Linked DNA regions of Homo sapiens: regions 1 and 2 are each linked to region 3. Evidence: fine-mapped expression QTL. A gene starts in region 3. Each other region holds a variant in brackets. All regions are shown on one strand. Distances are between the middles of the regions.

The links. PIP is the estimated chance that this variant, and not a neighbour inherited with it, causes the effect. A credible set is the group of variants that fine-mapping cannot tell apart.
Region 1: its variant is the best candidate, but not a certain one, in a credible set for the expression of ZNF286A in whole blood (INTERVAL, PIP 0.78).
Region 2: its variant is the best candidate, but not a certain one, in a credible set for the expression of ZNF286A in whole blood (INTERVAL, PIP 0.58).

Annotation. Positions count from the first base shown.
Region 1 is chr17:15,727,380-15,730,232 of GRCh38, forward strand. The region is part of intron 6 of ZNF286A-TBC1D26 (ZNF286A-TBC1D26 readthrough (NMD candidate)); the gene reads left to right. Among named protein-coding and RNA genes, the nearest start is that of TBC1D26, 3.5 kb to the right of the region's middle. The variant G/A (reference allele first, on the strand shown) is at 1,642.
Region 2 is chr17:16,184,270-16,186,769 of GRCh38, forward strand. It overlaps NCOR1 (nuclear receptor corepressor 1), which reads right to left. Exons shown (of 46, transcript NM_006311.4): 3 at 2,285-2,418. Among named protein-coding and RNA genes, the nearest start is that of NCOR1, 30 kb to the right of the region's middle. The variant G/C (reference allele first, on the strand shown) is at 1,557.
Region 3 is chr17:15,698,728-15,701,429 of GRCh38, forward strand. It overlaps ZNF286A (zinc finger protein 286A), which reads left to right and starts at 1,025. Exons shown (of 6, transcript NM_001130842.2): 1 at 1,025-1,050; 2 at 1,408-1,639; 3 at 2,425-2,513. The coding sequence starts at 1,603. ZNF286A-TBC1D26 (ZNF286A-TBC1D26 readthrough (NMD candidate)) reads left to right here and starts at 1,025. Exons shown (of 23, transcript NR_171000.1): 1 at 1,025-1,050; 2 at 1,321-1,639; 3 at 2,425-2,513. RefSeq lists enhancers at 722-1,333, 769-818, 829-1,148.

The sequences.
Region 1 (2,853 bases), 29 kb after region 3:
CGCCGGCCTCGGCCTCCCAAAGTGCTAGGATTATAGGCGTGAGCCACCGTGCCCGGCCTAATAAGCTCTTTGTTTTTTCCTTTTCTTTCTTTCTTTCTTTTTTTTTTTTTTTTTGAGACTGAGTCTGGCTCTGTCGCCCAGGCTGGAGTGCGATCTCCGCTCACTGCAAGCTCCGCCTCCCGGGCTCACGTCATTCTCCTGTCTCAGCCTCCTCTCCTGCCTCCTGTCTCAGCCTGTAGCTGGGTCTACAGGCGCCCGCCACCATGCCCGGCTAATTTTTTTTTGTAGTTTTTAGTAGAGATGGAGTTTCACCGTGTTTGCCACGATGGTCTCGATCTGACCTCGTGATCAGCCCGCCTCGGCCTCCCAAAATGCTGGGATTACAGGCGTGAGCCACCACGCCCAGCCAAGCTCTTTCTTAAAGAGAAGATATTTCCACCTTTAACTGACAAAATCCCAAAAATTTATGTCAAGAATTTATTTTTAAAAACTTCTCGAAGATCATTTAGAAAGATTGATAACCACATTGGAAAAAGTATAAAAAATTGCATAGACCCCTGAAAATATGATTATATACATTTTCTTTTTTTGTTGTTTTTTTGAGACGGAGTTTCGCTCTTGAAGCACAGGCTGGAGTGCAATGGCGCAATCTCGGCTCACTGCAACCTGCCTACCGGGTTCAAGCGATTCTCCTGCCTCAGCCTCCTGGGTAGCTGGGATTACAGGCGTACGCACCACCATGCGAGTTTCGCTCTTGTCCCCCGCGCTGGAGTGCAGTGGCACGTTCTTGGCTCACTGCAACATCTGCCTCCCGGTTTCCAGCAATTCTCCCACCTCAACCTCCCGAGTAGCTGGGATTACAGGCGCCTGCCACCATGGCGAGCTAATTTTTTTTTGTATTTTTAATAGAGACGGGGTTTCATCATGTTAGCCAGGCTGGTCTCGAACTCCGGACCTCAAGAGATCCGCCCACCTCGGCCTCCCAAAGTACTGGGATTACAAGCATGAGCCACCGTGCCCAGCCTGATTATATACATTTTCAATAAACATTTATGAAAGTGGTATCAGGCCTTTTAATAATCAGAAGACCAAAATAAATGAAAACGAAATAACATTATCCACTAACCAGAATATGTAAAAGGAAGACTGACAAAATCAGGTGTTGGAAAGGACATCTAATTAGAACTCTCAAACTTGTGGTTGGGTTATATATTAGTCAAAAAAATCTTTGGAATTAAAATTTAATTGATAAATTGTATGTATTTATGCTATACCACATTTTACATACACACACACACACACACATTGTAGAATAGCTAAATCTGTGTATATATATGTATAGCAACAGACAGACATTGTAGAATGGCTAAATCAAGCTACCTAGCATATCAGTTACCTCAGATACTTATCTTTTTTTTTTGTGGTGAGAACATTTAAAATCTGCTGTCTCAAAAATTTCAAGTATTACCACATTGTTATTAACTGTAGTCAACATGTTGTACAATAGAGCTCTTGAGCTTTTCCTCCTAGCTGACATTTTTAGTGACATGCGTTGCATTTGAACATATGCAGTTACCATGACCAAGCTATTTTATTTGTAGGGCTGTACTTAACTAAAATATCTATACATGTGTACCAAAA[G/A]AAATTAACAAGAATGTTCATAGTGGCTTTATTGCTAGTAGTCCCAAAATGGAAACAAACCAATGTCCATCAACAGTAGAATTGATAGATGTGCCATATTCATGCAGAGCACCACCGAGCAGGGAAAAGAAATGAACTGCTTGGGCCGGGCACGGTGGCTCACGCCTGTAATCCCAGCACTTTGGGAGGCTGAGGCGGATGGATCACTAGGTCAGGAGATTGAGACCATCCTGGCTAACACAGTGAAACCTCATCTCTGCTACAAATACAAAAAAATTACCTGGGCATGGTGGCAAGCGCCTGTAAGTCCCAGCTACTCGGGAGGCTGAGGCAGGAGAATGGTGTGAACCTGGGAGGCAGAGCTTGCAGTGAGCCGAGATCGCATCACTGCACTCCAGCCTGGCCGACAGAGCGAAACTCCATCTCAAAAAAAAAAAAAAAAAATGAACTGCTTCATGAAACCACTTGAAGGAGTGTCACAAATGTAATGCTGGGCCAAAGAAGCCACACACAAAACCATTCCTACTGAATGGCCCTCCATGCTTCCATTTATGAAACAGACAACACTAATTGGGGCTGCTAAAAACCAGGTGACTCTTTGCTTTGACAAGACAGGTGGGCAGTGGTTAGGGAGCAGACCTTCAGGAGAGGGATTTCCAGATTGTTATTTTTATTTCATTTTCTTGGACTGTGTGGTAGCTCCAAGCATGTGTCCTCTTTGTGATAAATCACTGAGTAGTAGAATAATAGGATTCCTGTGTATATTATACTTTAATAAACATATTTGAATTCCTTTTTCCATTAGGACAAATAATATAAATCATAATAAATCTTTGCAATTTTAGTATTATTTCTAGTTGATGAAAAATAAGCCACCTGAAGGATTCCAAACTTGCGTATTTCAATATAGAACTTACATGTTCTAATATATATTTCTAGAGATCCAAAACTGTCTGATTAATGTCATTTGAGTGTAAAAAAGCACAGTTATGTTTACAATTTGCTCTCTAATCTTTTACTTGAAGTTAAGCTAATTATCCACATCCATCAATAAAACTGCTTTCACAGAAGAGTCCAATCCATGGCATAAATGACAGGAACTTTAGAAAAGTCGTTTCTTCTTCATTATTTATGTAAAAACATTAAATTTCTTAGAAACACAGGCCAGCAAACTCCCAGTTTAGTGTTGCTTTCATTGCTTTCTGTAGTCTT
Region 2 (2,500 bases), 490 kb after region 3:
TCAGCAGCCTGTAGACACAGAAAACATATTTGTAAACTATGCATCTGCTAAGGAATTAATATCCAGAATTTATAAAGAACTCATAAAACTCAATAGCAGAAAAACAAATAACCTGATTTTAAAATGGGCAGAAGATCTGAATAGACATTTCTCAAAAGAAAACGTAAAAATCACCAACAGGTATATGAAAAGATGTTCAGTATCATTAGTCATCAGGGAACTGTATATTAAAAGCACTATGAGATATTCTCACACCCATTAGGATGCCTATTACCAAAAAAAGTCAAAAGATAACAAATATTAATGAGGGCATGAAGAAAAGAGAACTCTTGTACACTGCTGGTGGTAACGTAAATTAGTACAACCATTATGGAAAACAGTATGAAAGTTCCTAAAGCAATTAAAAATAGAACTACCACATGACCCCACAATCCTTCTTCTGGATATATACCCAAGGGAAATGAAATCACCATCTTGTAAAGGTAAATGCACTCCCATGTTATTGCAGCTAATTATTCACAATAGCCAAGATATAAAAACAATCTAAGTGTTTGTCAATGAATGAATCATAAAGAAACTGTGGTATATATACACTATGGAATATTATTCAACCCTAAAAAAAAATGAGATCTTGCCATCCACAACATGGATAAGCCTGAAGGACATTATGCTATGTGAAATAAACCTGACACAGAAAGTAAAATATTGCATGATTTCGCTTATATGTGGAATCTTAAACAAAAAAAAAAAAAAAAAAAAGGAACTATACAAAGAGAACAAAACAGTGCTAACAGTGGTTACCAGGGGCAGGGGGTGGAAAGAAAATGGGGAGACGAAAGTCAGAGGATGTAAAGTAGCAGACACATAGAATGAAAAAGTCTAGATTTCTTATGTACAACATGAGGACTACAGATAATAATATAGTGCTGTATCTGGGATTCATGATAAATGAGTAGATTTTAGTCGGTCCAGCCACAAAAGCAAAAATAAAAACAAAAGCAAAAATAAATAACTTTGTGAGATGATGGATATGCTAATTTGCTTCACCATAGTGACCTTTTTATTATCTATACGTATCCCATAACATCATGTTGTATGCCTTAAATACACACAATTTAAAAAAAAAAATTCTGGCGAGGTGCAGTGGCTCATGCCTATGATCCCAACACTTTGAGAGGCCAAAGCGGGCAGATCACTTGAGGCCCAGAATTCAAGACCAGCCTGGTCAACACGGCAAAACCCCATCTCTACTAAAAACACAAAAGTTAGCTGGGTGTGGTGTGTATGCCTGTAATCCCAGCTATTTAGGAGGCTGAGGCATGAGAATCACTTGAACCCTGGAGACGGAGGTTGCAGTGAGCTGAGATCATGCCACTGCACTCCAGCCTGGGTGACAAGAGTGAGACTCTTTCTCAAAAAAAAAAAAAAAAAAAAAAAAAAGAATTAACTATTTTGGGAGGTAGGGGTGGGTGGATCACTTGAGCTCAGGAGTTCAAGACTAGCCTGGGCAACATGGCGAAATCCTATCTCTACAAAAAATACAAAAAATTAGCCAG[G/C]ACTGGGAGACTAAGGTGGGAGAATCACTTGAGCCCAGGAGGTTGAGGCTGCAATGAGCCATGATCATGCCACTGCACTCCAGCCTGGGCAACAGAGCTAGAAAGATCCTGTCTCCAAAAAACAAGAAAAAACAAACAAAACTTTCAGAATGAGAATGAAGTAAAAGAAAGCAGAGATGGTAAGGACACTCAGGAAAAAGAGAACCCACCATGCATGTACAGGACCTACATTATCTGACAGAATATTTACTATCAGTTGAGGACAATGCCACTATTATCTCCATTTTTATAGGAGGGAAAACTAAAGCTTGAAGAGTTGAGATCAGTGACTGGCAACCCTAGCTGCAAATCAGAATTACCGGAAAAACTTCGGCGATAAAATAAAGCCTGGGCCCAACTCCAGAGATTGATTTAAGTGTTTTGTGATGAGGCTTGGGCATCCCAAGGGGTTCTAATGTGCAGCCCAAGTCTATAGAACATAACCAAGGACACACAGGTGACCAGGTGGTTTACTGCCTTTCTACTAAATAATATTAATGCCAAACTATGGAAACAAGTTTTAAGAGCTTGTTAACTATTGCAACCAACCAACAAAAAAGAACTCAAAATGCAAACTATAAATGACCAGTCATGGCTTGGTTAATAAAAAGTAAAAAAATAAAATAATGACAAACTTGTATACTTCACAATTATAATCCTAGATAGAAACATAAAAGAAACCTCATTACCTGTCAGAACCTGGGTGAAATTCTGAAAGCAAGGAAGGTCGCCTTCGAAGCTGTTGCTGCTGCTGTTGCTGCAAAAGCTGTGATGCCTGACTCACTTCAAGATGAGAGGAACGATAATCAGGGACTGCGAACTCCTAGTATTAAAATAATCATAAATCAATTATTAACCAAAAACTGAACAACATCATGAAATCAAAGCAAGTATAAAGGTAGTTA
Region 3 (2,702 bases):
AAGCACTAAAGTAATAGCATATTCTTGTTTTAGAAAGAGCACTAGCCAGAAAGTGTGGAGAACAGATTGGTGGTAGAGAAAACCTTAGTTAGGGAATCCAGTTACCAGGCTGCAACGGCAATCCTAGTGAAATGGTGGTGGCCCCAACTAAGGTAATGCTACTGAGAATAGAGAAAGATGGAAACAATTGAGTTATTTAAGATACAATGAATAGGACTTGGTGATAAATAGATGGTGAGATCAAAGAGTTAAGAATATTCAGGCTCTGGTTTGTGCAAATGAGTGAGTGGGCAGTAATGTCATTCACTGAGAAAAGGAGGGCAGTCTAGACACGAAGCTGGAGGTGGATGGGTTAGTCCTCTAACAGAATTGGAGAGACTGAATAACTCTCCCTTGAAAGAACCACCTTTTATGATATGTTTAAACTAATGCTTATGTCTGCAAAGAACCTATTGCTTAAATTTGTTACAACAGGTTCAATCTTTTCAACTCATTTTAAATACATGAATTTTAGGATTACAAGTAGTCTGTGGATACAGGAACATCTGACTGAGTGTACAAAGAGGGACCTGCTCTTCCTAAAAACATCCTTCGTATGTTTTGAAAGCAAAAGGATGAGTTCTGGGCGCACAAAATATGGATAAAAGCTATGTATTTTAACGTATCTTACACCGGAGTAATTTGGGTTGAACTCAGCAGCCCTAAGCACTGTGCCGCAGGAACTTGTGCAGACAAAGCGCGGGGACGGACCCTGACTCCGGTCCGCGTCTCCGCTGCTCCCTCCCTCCCTTGCTCTGAGGATTAGACACAGGAGATGCTGCCTCATACTCTCGCGAGACGGACGGAGCTCTTCGATCGTCCGATTCTCCCAGCCGCACCACGGGTGCTCCCACCTGCGGAGAACCGGAGTCTGGCGATGCCAAGGCGCTTCTGGGAATTGTAGTTCCGGGCGGGATGAGGGCAGCACGCCTGGCTCCGCTCCTTCTTACGCATGCGCGACTCCGAGCTGGCCAAAGAAGTTCGTCCCCTTTGTGAGGCCCGGGATGGGAGGTGAGTTGCTTGTGGTGATGTCGCTCGTCTCGGCTCGGCCTCGGCGGTGGTTCCCCGGGTCGTTCTGTGCCGAGTCGGGGCTAGAGTGCGCGTTTGTTAAAGGGGCCTCGAGGGCAGACCATGAGCCCTGTCCCTTCTCACTCTGGCCTGATCCTCTCCTCGGGGGACGCGGTTGTGCCACGGGCGGGGTGGTCGCGGGGTTCTGGGCCAGTGCCCCGAGCGCGGCAGAATTTGTCCAAACTCCTGATGCCCCAGCGTCACCTCTTCCAGGTGCCCGGTTCCCCCAGGGACAGCTTCAAGCGGTAGGGACAGACATCTGAGGACCCAGCCTCAGGGATGCTGTCCCCGGGCTTCCAGGCTCCAGCGCCGTAGGACTGAGGCAGACTCCACGGTGAGAAAGAGACCCGATCTAACCCAGGCCTTTCATCAGAGCCCAGGAGGGAAGGCAGGAAGTGGGACCACGAGGCCCGGGGGGCTTCTAACTCGTCTGGCCAGGGAGATCTGAATTGGGGTGAAGAGCAGAATCTCCAGAACAAGGAGGAGGTGGTGATCATGGAGACAGATTTGGCTGAAATGCCTGAGAAAGGAGGTGAGAATTGCGGACGTGTTGAACTTGTAGCGTGGAAGGACGAAATTCCTGCTCCTGAAGGGAAAACGGTTGGCTCAGGGGAGGTGGCTCTTGGCTGGCTGTCTCCATTGTCTTGGGGATGGATGGGCTTTTTAAGTGAGACTGAAGGGCTTGGTATGGGAGCACCGCCCTTTCCATGGCAGCTGGGCACACAGTGGACCCTTCAAAGCTACCCCCAAAATGTGAGTGAAATGTTAACTTCTATGGCAAGAATTCACCTCTTTGGTTGTCAAAAATGTTTTGTTTTACATAGGAGAAAACAGGCGTAGTAGTTAATGACTGACTTCCATTCTACCTGACCAGTTTCATGAAGGTTGTGCTGTGACCTCCTACACCAGAATTCCCCCTGGGGTGGTTGTTAGATTTCTGGATTGTACCCCAGGCTCAACTAATGCTTATTACTTTGAGGTGGGGTCCAGCAATCTACATTATAAATAAGCTTTCAGAGTGAGAACCAACGAGTATAGATTAAACTGGGAAATTTACTGACATATTCTAATTTCTAGATCAGAGGATGCCATCTTACAGAATGTGTTATGATTATAGCAACTGAATTCGAGCCCAGAGTAGCAATATTCCCGCATATCCCGGGAAGAGGGTCCTGGGAGGAGGTCGGTTGTTTTGGGGGTACCTTCAGTCTCAGTGTTTGTAGGCAGCACATATAGTATGTTGAAGTGGTTTTTAGACTTTAAATCTGAGTGGCACGTTAAGCCTAGGTCTCATCATTACTGCTTTCTTGTCGTTAGCTCTGTCTTCCCAGGATTCTCCCCATTTCCAAGAGAAGAGCACAGAAGAGGGAGAAGTGGCTGCTCTGCGCCTCACGGCCAGATCCCAGGTGAGTGAGTGCTGATTATTGGAATTACACCTTGTTTCTTAGAGTACAGATGCACTCCCTTCTTTGTGATGTGGAGTTTCTTTATCCACTAAAGCCCATCTGCAGAGCTGAGTTCTAAATCTAAGAGACTAGTCAGGAGACTAATGGACTCAGAAGAAAATGTTTTCTACTTATAACACTGGATGGATT